Linked DNA regions of Homo sapiens: region 1 is linked to region 2. Evidence: fine-mapped QTL for protein levels in blood plasma. Region 2 holds a variant in brackets. A gene starts in the other region. All regions are shown on their forward strands.

Region 1 (5,393 bases), not on the chromosome of region 2:
GTGAGAGCACATAACTTGAGCCCAGGAGTTCAAGATCAGCCTGGAAAGCACAGTGAGACCTCATCTCTACTAAAAACAAACAAACAAAAACAAAACATAATTAGCTGGGCATGGTGGCAAGTGCCTGTAGTCCCAGCTACTCAGGAGGCTGAGGTGGGATGATCATTTGAGCCTAGGAGTTTGAGGCAGCAGTGAACTATGATCACAGCACTGCATTCCAGCCTGGGTGACAGAAAGAGACCCTGTCTCTAAAACAAACAAACAAACAGACAAACAAAAAACAAAAAAATAAAATCATGGGCAAACTCATTAATCATTTTACCCTTGACAACATAAAAATGATTGGCATGATAAAATATTCACATTAAAATCAATGATTTAACACTTACTGTTGGTTTTCTGAGCAGGATGAAATATCTACTTTATCTTTAGAAAGAAAGAAGGTGGAAGGTTTAGAGCAGCATATATATTACACATATTCCTGTTTTGTCAAACTCTGGTTTTGTTAAATAAATCTAAGTCAACAAAGTTCTGAAGTAGTATTTTTCATACCAGTAACCTTAAACTTCATTGTCAGTTGTCTGATAATGCTTTTGACATTATTTGCTTCCCACATAGTTTTTAACATGAGTAAGTAAATCATGCCCTCCCTTTCTAATCAGTTCTCCCTTCTCCTTAGGCACACGATAATCTGCATGTGGCCTTTTTGGACTAGTATTTCTATATTGACAACCCAAGACAGGTTAACTACTGTGAAGGTTACCAGGATTCTGCCTTATAGCTGAACTCTCATAGTTCAGCTGTCTATGATTTTTACTTTCTAATTATCAACTACCTGTAGCTTATTGGTTACGGGTGCATTCTTTGGAAACCATCAGGTCTGGGAAATCTATGCCAAGCTTCAGTGTTTTTCTTATGTAAAATGTAGATTTTTATATCACAGGTTTTTGCTTTGAAGACTGGAAGGGACAATGTATGTAACACCTCTAATACAATAAACACATTATGCACATAATACAAATAAACGGAAATTATTCATGTTTTTATTATCTTTTGCAATGTCTGCTAGTTTGTTGAGCTCATAAGAGCTTTCTATAAACATATGCTGTTTGATTGAATTGCTAATTACTAAGTGTTTAAGAGACATGTGTTTCCTTCCAGGTGTTATAGGAAAATACAATCAGTATAATCTAATTCGAGATTCACATGTTCAAGGCCTGGTTCTATTAGACACCTTCTGGCTGACTTTAGGAAAATGCTCTAACATCTGGGCTGTTGTATCCTCATCAGCTCATTGAAAGCCATACACAGGAGCCTGAAGAGTTTTGTATAGCTCAATCACCCAGTGTATGCATCTGATGAGCCAGAATTCTATAATAGGCCATGATGCCATACTCTCCTCTTTGCTGCTCTTCTCTCTCATAACCTCAACCATCTAACCTATACTCATCTTCATTGAGTCAATGAAAGCAATGTCACTGTTGGTGAGAGTATATTCAAGGAAAAATATTTTTTTCTATTCCATATAATTACATTTTATTCCTTTAAACCCATATTGATATATAGTTGAAAAGTTGGCTACCATTTTTTTTCTTTGCTACTTACTAATGGTGAAGTACTGTGCTCTTTCTTGCAGGTGTTTTAAGATCAGGATGACATGGTTTTCCTAGAGTGTCTTTAGGAGGGCCATGGTGTATAATTTTATAACCCTAGAACAAGGAAACAAAATATTTAAAATAAAGATGTGAAGAATACCCTTATAGATGGTATCTATAATCTTTGTCACAAACTTAAATTTTGACTCAATTGTTTAGTATTGTTTCTAATAATTTACTGTATTTATTTGATTTCAGCGTTAAGACCATATTGTCCTTCTGAGGTCAGATTGTATTTCAACGCCCTGATATTTCCTTCAAACACTAACAAAAAAGTGGACTTCTTGAAGTTCAGTAACTACTAGTTGGCTAACTTGCTTGGAAAATTGCAACCTTTTTTCAAGACTCCCAACCCCTTATCTAGGACTTCAACCCATTCTTTAAAAGATCATTTCCATAAGCAGTGTCCCACATGGTAAGTATTAACTACGTGGATTTGGGGGTAACAGCTTTGTCTCTTCATTTTTTTTTTAAATTCTGGAAGCCAATAGATGATATAAAGTCCAGCAGAGTCAATGACCCCAACTCTAATTGTTATTACAGTTTCTAATAACTGTACATTCAAAACATCAATTAGAAACTAAGAGTCTTAATTTGACTTCGTAAAAAGCAGATTGAGAAATGACTTCAGGCTTCTACTATGATTCAATGGGTCTTATGTACTTAGAATGATTTCTCTTTTAAGGTAGGTAAAGAGTTTCAATAGACTAAACATAGAGAAGCATGTTGAAAGTTATGGTAGGTCGGCGCTAAGCAACAAAATTGAACTCTCAGTCTGCCCGGCATTAGCTATGTGCCCTCCAGATGCCGGAAGAGGAGCGAAGGAGGATCAGAAACCCCCTCACCTCAACGATGGTTCTCTCCCCTGTGCTTCACCCCACCTCCCCGTCCCTAGCCATTTCTAGTCTCCAATCCGGGTCTTACATTTACCCTGGCTCCAGAGCACAGACCTTCCTGCAGTTGGGCCGGCGCGTTGCGGCGTTGAGGAGCTGCGGCGCGCCCCTCTCACCGCGATTGTTCACTTGCCAGGCGCCACGTGTGGGCGACGTCACTGGGCTTTATGCTTTCATCGCCGCTATCTGCCTACGTGAGCTGCTCTCCTCCCATCGCCCCCGCCTCCCCTACTACGGAGAAAATCTTGCACGTTTTCCCTTGTGAAAAGCAGAGTTCTCTTTTTCTCATTACCACCAGTTGATGAGGAAAGAAAATGTCTGTTCGCATACCTGCGCCGTACTAGGAGGAGGAGGGAGGTCATATAAGGATTCGGGTTGCCCAGGGGGTGGCTTGAAAAAGGAGGCGTTCGCATTCAAACAAGAATGCCTGAATTAATGTAGTTCAATTTAAAGAGCTAATTAGGAGTCCACAGGTGCTTAAGTTTGCAGTGCGCTGCCAGTGTCATGCCAACGACGCACTCCAGTTACACAGGTTGTCAGTTTCAGGCTCCCTCATAAACACTTCATGTTCTTGTCCCTCTTCCCCGTTGGCAACAGTTTTATGGTGAGAAAATTCACGAAGAGTAACAGGAACAACTCTTATGAAAATACGCAGAACTCCTGACCCAAGGCTACTGGCTGCAAGTTTAGCATACGTATCAAGCATGGGTTAAAGACATGTTTTCTCTCTCAGAAGGCGGATGAGTAATAGGTGCATTTTCTTCTATTCACAGTTGTTTTCAAAGCGAAAAGGAGTGAATTCGCTTATGACCTAGAGGAAGAGAGATGGGTCAAAAGATGTCAAGCCAAGGATTAATATCCGTCATACCTTGGTTCTCTGTAAGCCATGCAATAAGAGGCTTGAGATTTCACCAACTCTGGAGACTCACTTGGGCACAACTGAAACTATAACAAACTTGGTGCTCAGTGCCATTTTCCTTTGGCAGTGTTACAAGGTAATTTCAAGGGATCAGCACACAGACATTGTTTTAGTTTTCTTTTGCTGCTTATTTCAGTTCATGCAGCACTGACTAAAAATTTTGGAATTTAGACTGCTTAACGCTTATATCTACATCCAATATCAAAATTCATTACTGACAGTTTGCCTTTCTAAATATTTATGAAATCTAGTCCTCAATCTGTCCCTCACTTCTATATTCATGTTTTCACCATATCTTGCTTAAGTTATTAATTGGACATTTCAAATACCTATATGCACAAAATCTCTGCCTACCTATTTGTTCTTTCTTTCTAGTGCCGAACAATTCATTCTCAGCACTATAATAGTCTATCATTTACTGTGAATATCTTATTTTTCATTTTTGGAGAAGAGTCATTCCTGTAATTATTACTTGTTCCCATATTCACATTGATGATATCAGAATGAGAGCAACTTGAGCGCTGTGGTGCCAGATATTGTTGGTGAACCTGAATTTCAGAAATTGGCTATGTCTGTCTTGATTATTGCTGTATCTCCAAAACTAACACAATACCAAATATAGGTGGTAGTTTGTAAATATTTGTTAAGTGAGTAAATATTGACCCGACATAGATTCTTAGAAAATACAGAAAAAAGGACATAAAATCTCTTTCTTCTAAGACTCATAGTACTATGAGAGAAAGGAGTATGTATATGAATAAGTAAAGAATACTATTAGGTAGTGTAGTTTAATGCTAAGTAGGGCGACCAAAAATATATACAGTAATTGAGAGTTCTGTGAGTTGATATGATCTGGGTAAAACCTAGGAAAGTTTTGACATTTGAACTGTTATTGAATAATGCGTATGGCTTGATTTGAAGGGAGAAAGAGTTGAAGAACAAAAGCAGATAAATCATTATATCACAAGGCATATTCAAGACAGAAAGACTGTTGAAAAGGTTGGGGAAACTTTGTATAGAAGTCTAAGGAGATTTGCTTCTCTGTATAACATGGGAAAGTAATTTCATTGACATTTTGGAGGGTTGGGAAATTCTTTGATCAAAAGAATGTTTCATAAAAGCCACCTGATCTCACTGCATGGGGTGATTTACAGAGCTGAGAAATTGATGGCAGCAAAAATAAGTGTGGTAACAATTCCCCAGATTAATTTTGTAGTAGTAGAAATAGGACAAAAGGGTGGAATATGAAGAGATTTTTAAAAAGTGTTGATAGATTTTGTATGAAGGGCAAATCCAGAATAGAAGACTTGTAAGTTTGGTGCCTGAATGTGTTGGAGAGCACATGGAAAGTAGATCTCCATTACTGAGAGGAATAGTACAGGTACTTCTAAGAACATTGCCAGGAGTCCTTTGCTTTTCTAGAAGGGCATCATTTGTTAGTTCCTTTTTCTATGGTTTGGAGTAAAAGAAGCAATGATTAGAAATGCATTCCTCATAGTAGGCTCTATAGCAGATTCTACTGTATAGGATATAGTTAAATACCAGACTTTAAATTCTCTTGTGAAAATTATGATAGAATTGGCTGAATAGAGAAGTATCTGTGCAGCTGCTGGCACTTGTGGCCTATGGAGAAATACATCAGATGAAGACTATAGAGATTTAGCTGTAGAGGATAAATGAAGAGATTGCTTAGTTAAGTAAGTAGACTCTTTAGCTCATTTTTTGATCTATTTAATTTTAGGTGGTTTGGTTTATGGGTAACCTGGGTAAAGAGCATACTCCAAACTCTTGGTATTATCCTCCCGATAGTCATAATAATAGTTTCCCTGGTACACTGTATTCTCTCAAAGGTTTTAAGTGCTTCCACGCAGCCATTGCTAGAATGTCAAATGGTCTCTCTTCAATTAGAATGACAAGAGCTGAAAG
Region 2 (5,393 bases):
TGTAAGGCAGGCCTGGTGGTGACAAAATCTCTCAGCATTTGCTTGTCTGTAAAGTATTTTATTTCTCCTTCATTTATGAAGCTTAGTTTGGCTGGATATGAGATTCTGGGTTGAAAATTCTTTTCTTTAAGAATGTTGAATAGTGGCCCCCACTCTCTTCTGGCTCATAGAGTTTCTGCTGAGAGATCTGCTGTTAGTCTGATGGGTTTCCCTTTGTGGGTAACCCGGCCTTTCTCTCTGGCTGCCCTTAACATTTTTTCCTTCATTTCAACTTTGGTGAATCTGACAATTATGTGTCTTGGTGTTGCTCTTCTCGAGGAGTATCTTTGTGATGTTCTCTGTATTTCCTGAATTTGAATGTTGGCCTGCCTTGCTAGGTTGGGGAAGTTCTCCTGGATAATATCCTACAGAGTATTTTCCAGCTTGCTTCCATTCTCCCTGTCACTTTCAGGTACACCAATCAAACATAGATTTGGTCTTTTCACATAGTCCCATATTTCTTGGAGGCTTTGTTCATTTCTTTTTACTCTTTTTTCTCTAAACTTCTCTTCTCACTTCATTTCACTTCTCTTCTCACTTCATTTCATTAATTTGATCTTCAATCACTGATACCCTTTCTTTCACTTGATTGAATCGGCTACTGAAGCTTGTGCATGCGTCACATAGTTCTAGTGCCATGGTTTTCAGCTCCATCCGGTTATTTAAGGTCTTCTCTACACTGTTTATTCTAGTTAGCCATTCATCTAATCTTTTTTCAAGGTTTTTAGCTTCCTTGCAATGGGTTCGAACATCCTCCTTTAGCTCGGAGAAGTTTGTTATTACTGATCTTCTGAAGCCTACTTCTGTCAACTCGTCAAAGTCATTCTCCATCCAGCTTTGTTCTGTTGCTGGCAAGAGGCTGTGATCCTTTGGAGGAGAAGAGGCACTCTGATTTTTAAAATTTTCAGCTTTTCTGCTTTGGTTCCTCCCCATCTTTGTGGTTTTATCTACCTTTGGTGTTTGATGATGGTGACCTACAGATGGGGTTTTGGTGTGGTTGTCCTTTTTGTTGATGTGGATGCTATTCCTTTCTGTTTGTTAGTTTTCCTTCCAACAGTCAAGTCCCTCAGCTGCAGGACAAGTGATCCTTCCACCTTGGCCTCGCAAAGTGCTGAGATTACACCTGTGAGCCACTGCACCTGGCTGATCTTTTGAAATTTACTAAGACTTATGTGTTCTAACAGAATGTGCCAGGTGCAAATAAGAATATTGTGTATCCACTTGCTTTTGACTGGAGAGTTCTGTACATGTCTGTTTAGCCTATTTGGTTTGTGATATGGTGTAGATGCCCTCCAAATCCCATATTGAAATGTAATCTCCAGTGTTGGATGTGGGGCCTAATGAGAGCTGTTTGCATCGTGGAGACAAATCCCTTATGGATGACTTGGCACAATCCCCTTGGTAATCATAGAGTTCTCACTCTCTTAATTCACATGAGAGCTGCTTGCTTAAAGGAACTTGGTTCCTCCACCTCACACTCGCATCATCTTTCACCATGTGACATGTTTGGTTCTTTTTTGACTTCCACTGTAATTGTAAGCTTCCTCATATCCTCACCAGAAGCAGATGCTGGCATATACTTCTTTTACAGTCTACTGAACTGTGAACCAAAGAAATCTTTTTCTTTATAAATTACCCAGTCTCAGGTTATTTTCTGTAGCATTGCAAAATGAATTCATACACAGTATAATGTTATTCAGGCTTTCTGTTTTTTAATTGATATTTTATTTAAATTTTTTATTCATTATTGAAAGTGAGGTCTTAATGTTTATAATTTTATGTTGCTATTTTATTTCTTGCTTCATTTTTGTCAATATTTGCTTTATATATTTTGAAGCCGTGATGTTATATATGCCTATACATATAGATAGACATAATAGTTATAGATTCCTAGTAAATGGACTCATTTTACCATTATATAATATCAATCTTTGTCTCATGCTAGTAATTGACTCATTTTCTTTTGTGTGTCTATAAAGATTTTTTTCTTTATGCTACATTAGAGATTTTATAAAACCTGTTAAAGTTACAACAGTACATTTTAAACTGGTAAAAAAAAAATGACTTCAGTTGCATAGAAAAATTTGTCCGCATTATATCTACCCTATACTTCTTATTGATATTGCTAATTGTATATTTTTATGTTTTATGATTATTTTTATGCTTATATCTTTCAAATTTTAAAGAATAACTAAAAATGTTTTCGGCACCATCACAATAATGCCACGGAATTTTATTTTTTTATATATGCATGTTTTTCAGAAAGTTATGTATTTTCATATGATTATATATTCTTCGTCATATTATTTTAAGTGGAAAGACCT[C/A]TTTTCAGCATTTTATTTAGGGTACATGCAGTGCTTATATGCTTTTTCAGCATTTGTTTATTCTGGAAGATCTTTATTTTTTTCTTTATTTTGTAGTACATTTTTGCTGATTACATTATTCTCACAATGAAGATTCTTTTTCAGCCTTTGACCATTTAACACAGTTCTTTTCTGACCTGCAAGGTTTCTGTTGACAAATTCACTGGTTGTCTCGGAGGACTAGGCTTATAAATAATACCTCACTTTTATCTTGCAGCTCCCAAGATTATCTTCTGGTTTGTGACTTTTGAAACTTTGCTTAAATATGTGTTATGGATCTTTTTGTGTATATCCTAGTTTGTTTGTTTAGCTTCTTCATTTTTTACATTACTTTTTTCATACTTTAAAATTATTTCACTTATTCTTTTTTACTTCCACAATTGTTTATTTTTATTATTCCAAGCCTTTTGTTGACATTCTCATTTATCTGATATCTGGTTTTCCATTTTTCTCATTGAGCAAAATACGGATTATCTTAAATTTTAAAAATTAATATATACATCTTTATTTTTATAGTTGCTTTTTGAAAATTTTGATTTTTTTGATTGGACCTTGTTGCCCAAATATTTTGTATACATTATAATCTTTGGTTGAGATTTAGACATTAACATAAAACTACCTTTCACAATCTTTATAATGCAGCTCTTTTCTGGCATAGCCTGAAACCAATTGTATTGGGTAGAGATTCTGGGAGTCTTGCAAACATGTTCTCAGGATGTGTCTTGTCTGCAATTTTGTATTTATTTTTCAGTTAAAAGACTTCTTCATATTTCTTATTACTGGTCAATAACTACTTTCTACACCTATTTTCTGTCCATGGTACTTCAGTCTTTCTGCTGTTGTAACATTCACTTTTGATCACAGAAGACTTAAAGCTGTCATTAAAGACACCATGTTCTTCTACTGGGGATGAGGAAGGGCTGTGTTGGGCAAATGTAGCAGACTTTTCTTTTCTTTCTATATGGCTTTTGACATTGTGCTCACATGGGGCACACACTTATTCTATAAATTTCCAACAAAGGTATTTTGATCACTATGATTTTGTTAGGTTTATACATCTATGAAGGAATTATGGCCTGTGGTAATTTGATATGCCATTTTGCTAGTGTGCCTTGTATAATTTTATATATTCGATTTGTAAAGTATATTCATCTGAGTCTAGTAAGTGGAGTAACTTGTGATTTTTATGTCTTTCAGTTACGTGTTCTCATTTCACCCAAGACCTTCATCCAGAGCAGGGCATAAAACATTCACTCCAAAAAGTAATACCAAGAACATATGGAAAATGTGGACATGAGAATTTACAATTTAAAAAATGCTGTAAAAGTGTGGGTGAGTGTGAGGTGCACAAAGGAGGTTATAATGAAGTTAAGCAATGTTTGTCAAATACCCAAAACAAAATATTTCAGACTCATAAGTGTGTCATAGTCTTTGGTAAATTTTCAAATTGCAATAGACATGAAACAAGATATACTGGAAAGAAACATTTCAAATGTAAAAAATATGGCAAATCGTTTTGCATGCCTTCACACCTAAATCAACATCAGATAATTCATACTAAGGAGAAGTCCTACAAATGTGAAGAATGCGGCAAATCCTTTAAACGCTCCTCAAACTGTACTACACATAAAAGAATTCATACTGGAGAGAAACCCTACAGATGTGAGGAATGTGGCAAAGCCTTTAGGTGGCCCTCAAACCTTACTAGACATAAGAGAATTCATACTGGAGAGAAACCCTACACATGTGAAGAATGTGGCCAAGCTTTTAGGCGCTCCTCAACACTTACTAACCACAAGAGAATTCATACTGGAGAGAGACCCTACAAATGTGAAGAATGTGGCAAAGCCTTTAGCGTATCCTCAACCCTCAATGACCACAAGAGAATTCATACTGGAGAGAAACCCTACACATGTGAAGAATGTGGCAGAGCCTTTAACTGCTCCTCAACCCTTAAGACACATAAGAGAATTCATACTGGAGAGAAACCCTACAAATGTGAAGAATGTGACAAAGCTTTTAAGAGGCATTCAAGTCTTGCTAAACATAAGATAATTCATACTGGAGAGAAACCCTACAAAAGTAAATAATGTGGCAAATTCTAGCCCTCAGGCCTTATAATACATACAATAATTTATGCTGGAAAAAAACACTACAAGTGTAGAGAATATGGACAAACCTTTAACAAGTTCCAAACCTTAATAGAAAATAAGAGAATCCATATTGGACAAAAATTTTATAAATGTAAAAAAATGTAACAAAGCCTTTGACCAACCCTCAAACCTTAATGAACCCAAGAGAATTTATTTAAAAAAAATATTTTTTTGAGATGGTATCTCCCTTTGTCACCCAGGCTGCAGTGCAGTGGCACAAACTCAGCTCACTGTAACCTCTGCCTTCCAGGTTCAAGTGATTCTCCTCCCTCAGCCTCCTGAGTAGCTGGGACTATAGGCATGTGCCACCACACTGGCTGATTTTTGCATTTTTAGTAGAGATGGAGTTTCACCATGTTGGCTAGGCTGGTCTCGAACTCCTAACCTCAGGTGATCCACCTGCCTCAGCCTCCCAAAACCTAAGAGAATTTATATTAGAGATACCCTAGAAAGGTTAAAAAAAAAAAGTGAAAAAACCTTTAAGCACATCTCAGGCCTTACACAATATCTGTTAATTCATTCTAGAGAGAAATCCTACAAAAGCAAAGAATGTGGTAACGCTTTTAACTAGTCTTGAACCCTTATTATACATAAGAGATGTAATACTTAAGAGAAACCCTACAATAAGGAATATGGCAATGTCTTTAAAAAGTCCTCAAACCTGAATAAATGTAAGATAATTGATATTGGAGAGAACCCCTGAAACTGTAGAAAAAAATGTGGCAAAGCCTTTAACTGGTTTCCATCCTTATTAATTAAAAAAATTTTATACTGGAGAGAAACTCTACAGCATAAAAATGTGACAGAGCATTTAACCATACCTCAAACTTTTCTAAAA

Alleles and levels. Positions count from the first base shown, and alleles are read on the strand shown. Strength reflects both the effect of a copy and how common the allele is.
For the plasma level of the protein whose gene starts at base 2,648 in region 1, C is the low allele of the variant in region 2 and A is the other (weak association).

What was found. PIP is the posterior inclusion probability: the model's chance that the variant is causal. Protein levels are from antibody-based Olink assays in UK Biobank. Linkage for the fine-mapping came from a reference panel and not from the study's own genotypes, which makes the PIPs less certain.
Region 1: CRISP2 starts here. The variant in region 2 is fine-mapped to the plasma level of the CRISP2 protein (UK Biobank, PIP above 0.99).

The regions. Positions count from the first base shown.
Region 1 is chr6:49,710,896-49,716,288 of GRCh38, forward strand. It overlaps CRISP2 (cysteine rich secretory protein 2), which reads right to left and starts at 2,648. Exons shown (of 10, transcript NM_003296.4): 1 at 2,580-2,648; 2 at 1,606-1,709; 3 at 390-426.
Region 2 is chr7:64,011,429-64,016,821 of GRCh38, forward strand. ZNF722 (zinc finger protein 722) reads left to right here. Exons shown (of 4, transcript NM_001396012.1): 4 at 3,600-5,393. The coding sequence ends at 4,492. Among named protein-coding and RNA genes, the nearest start is that of ZNF722, 15 kb to the left of the region's middle. The variant C/A (reference allele first, on the strand shown) is at 2,364.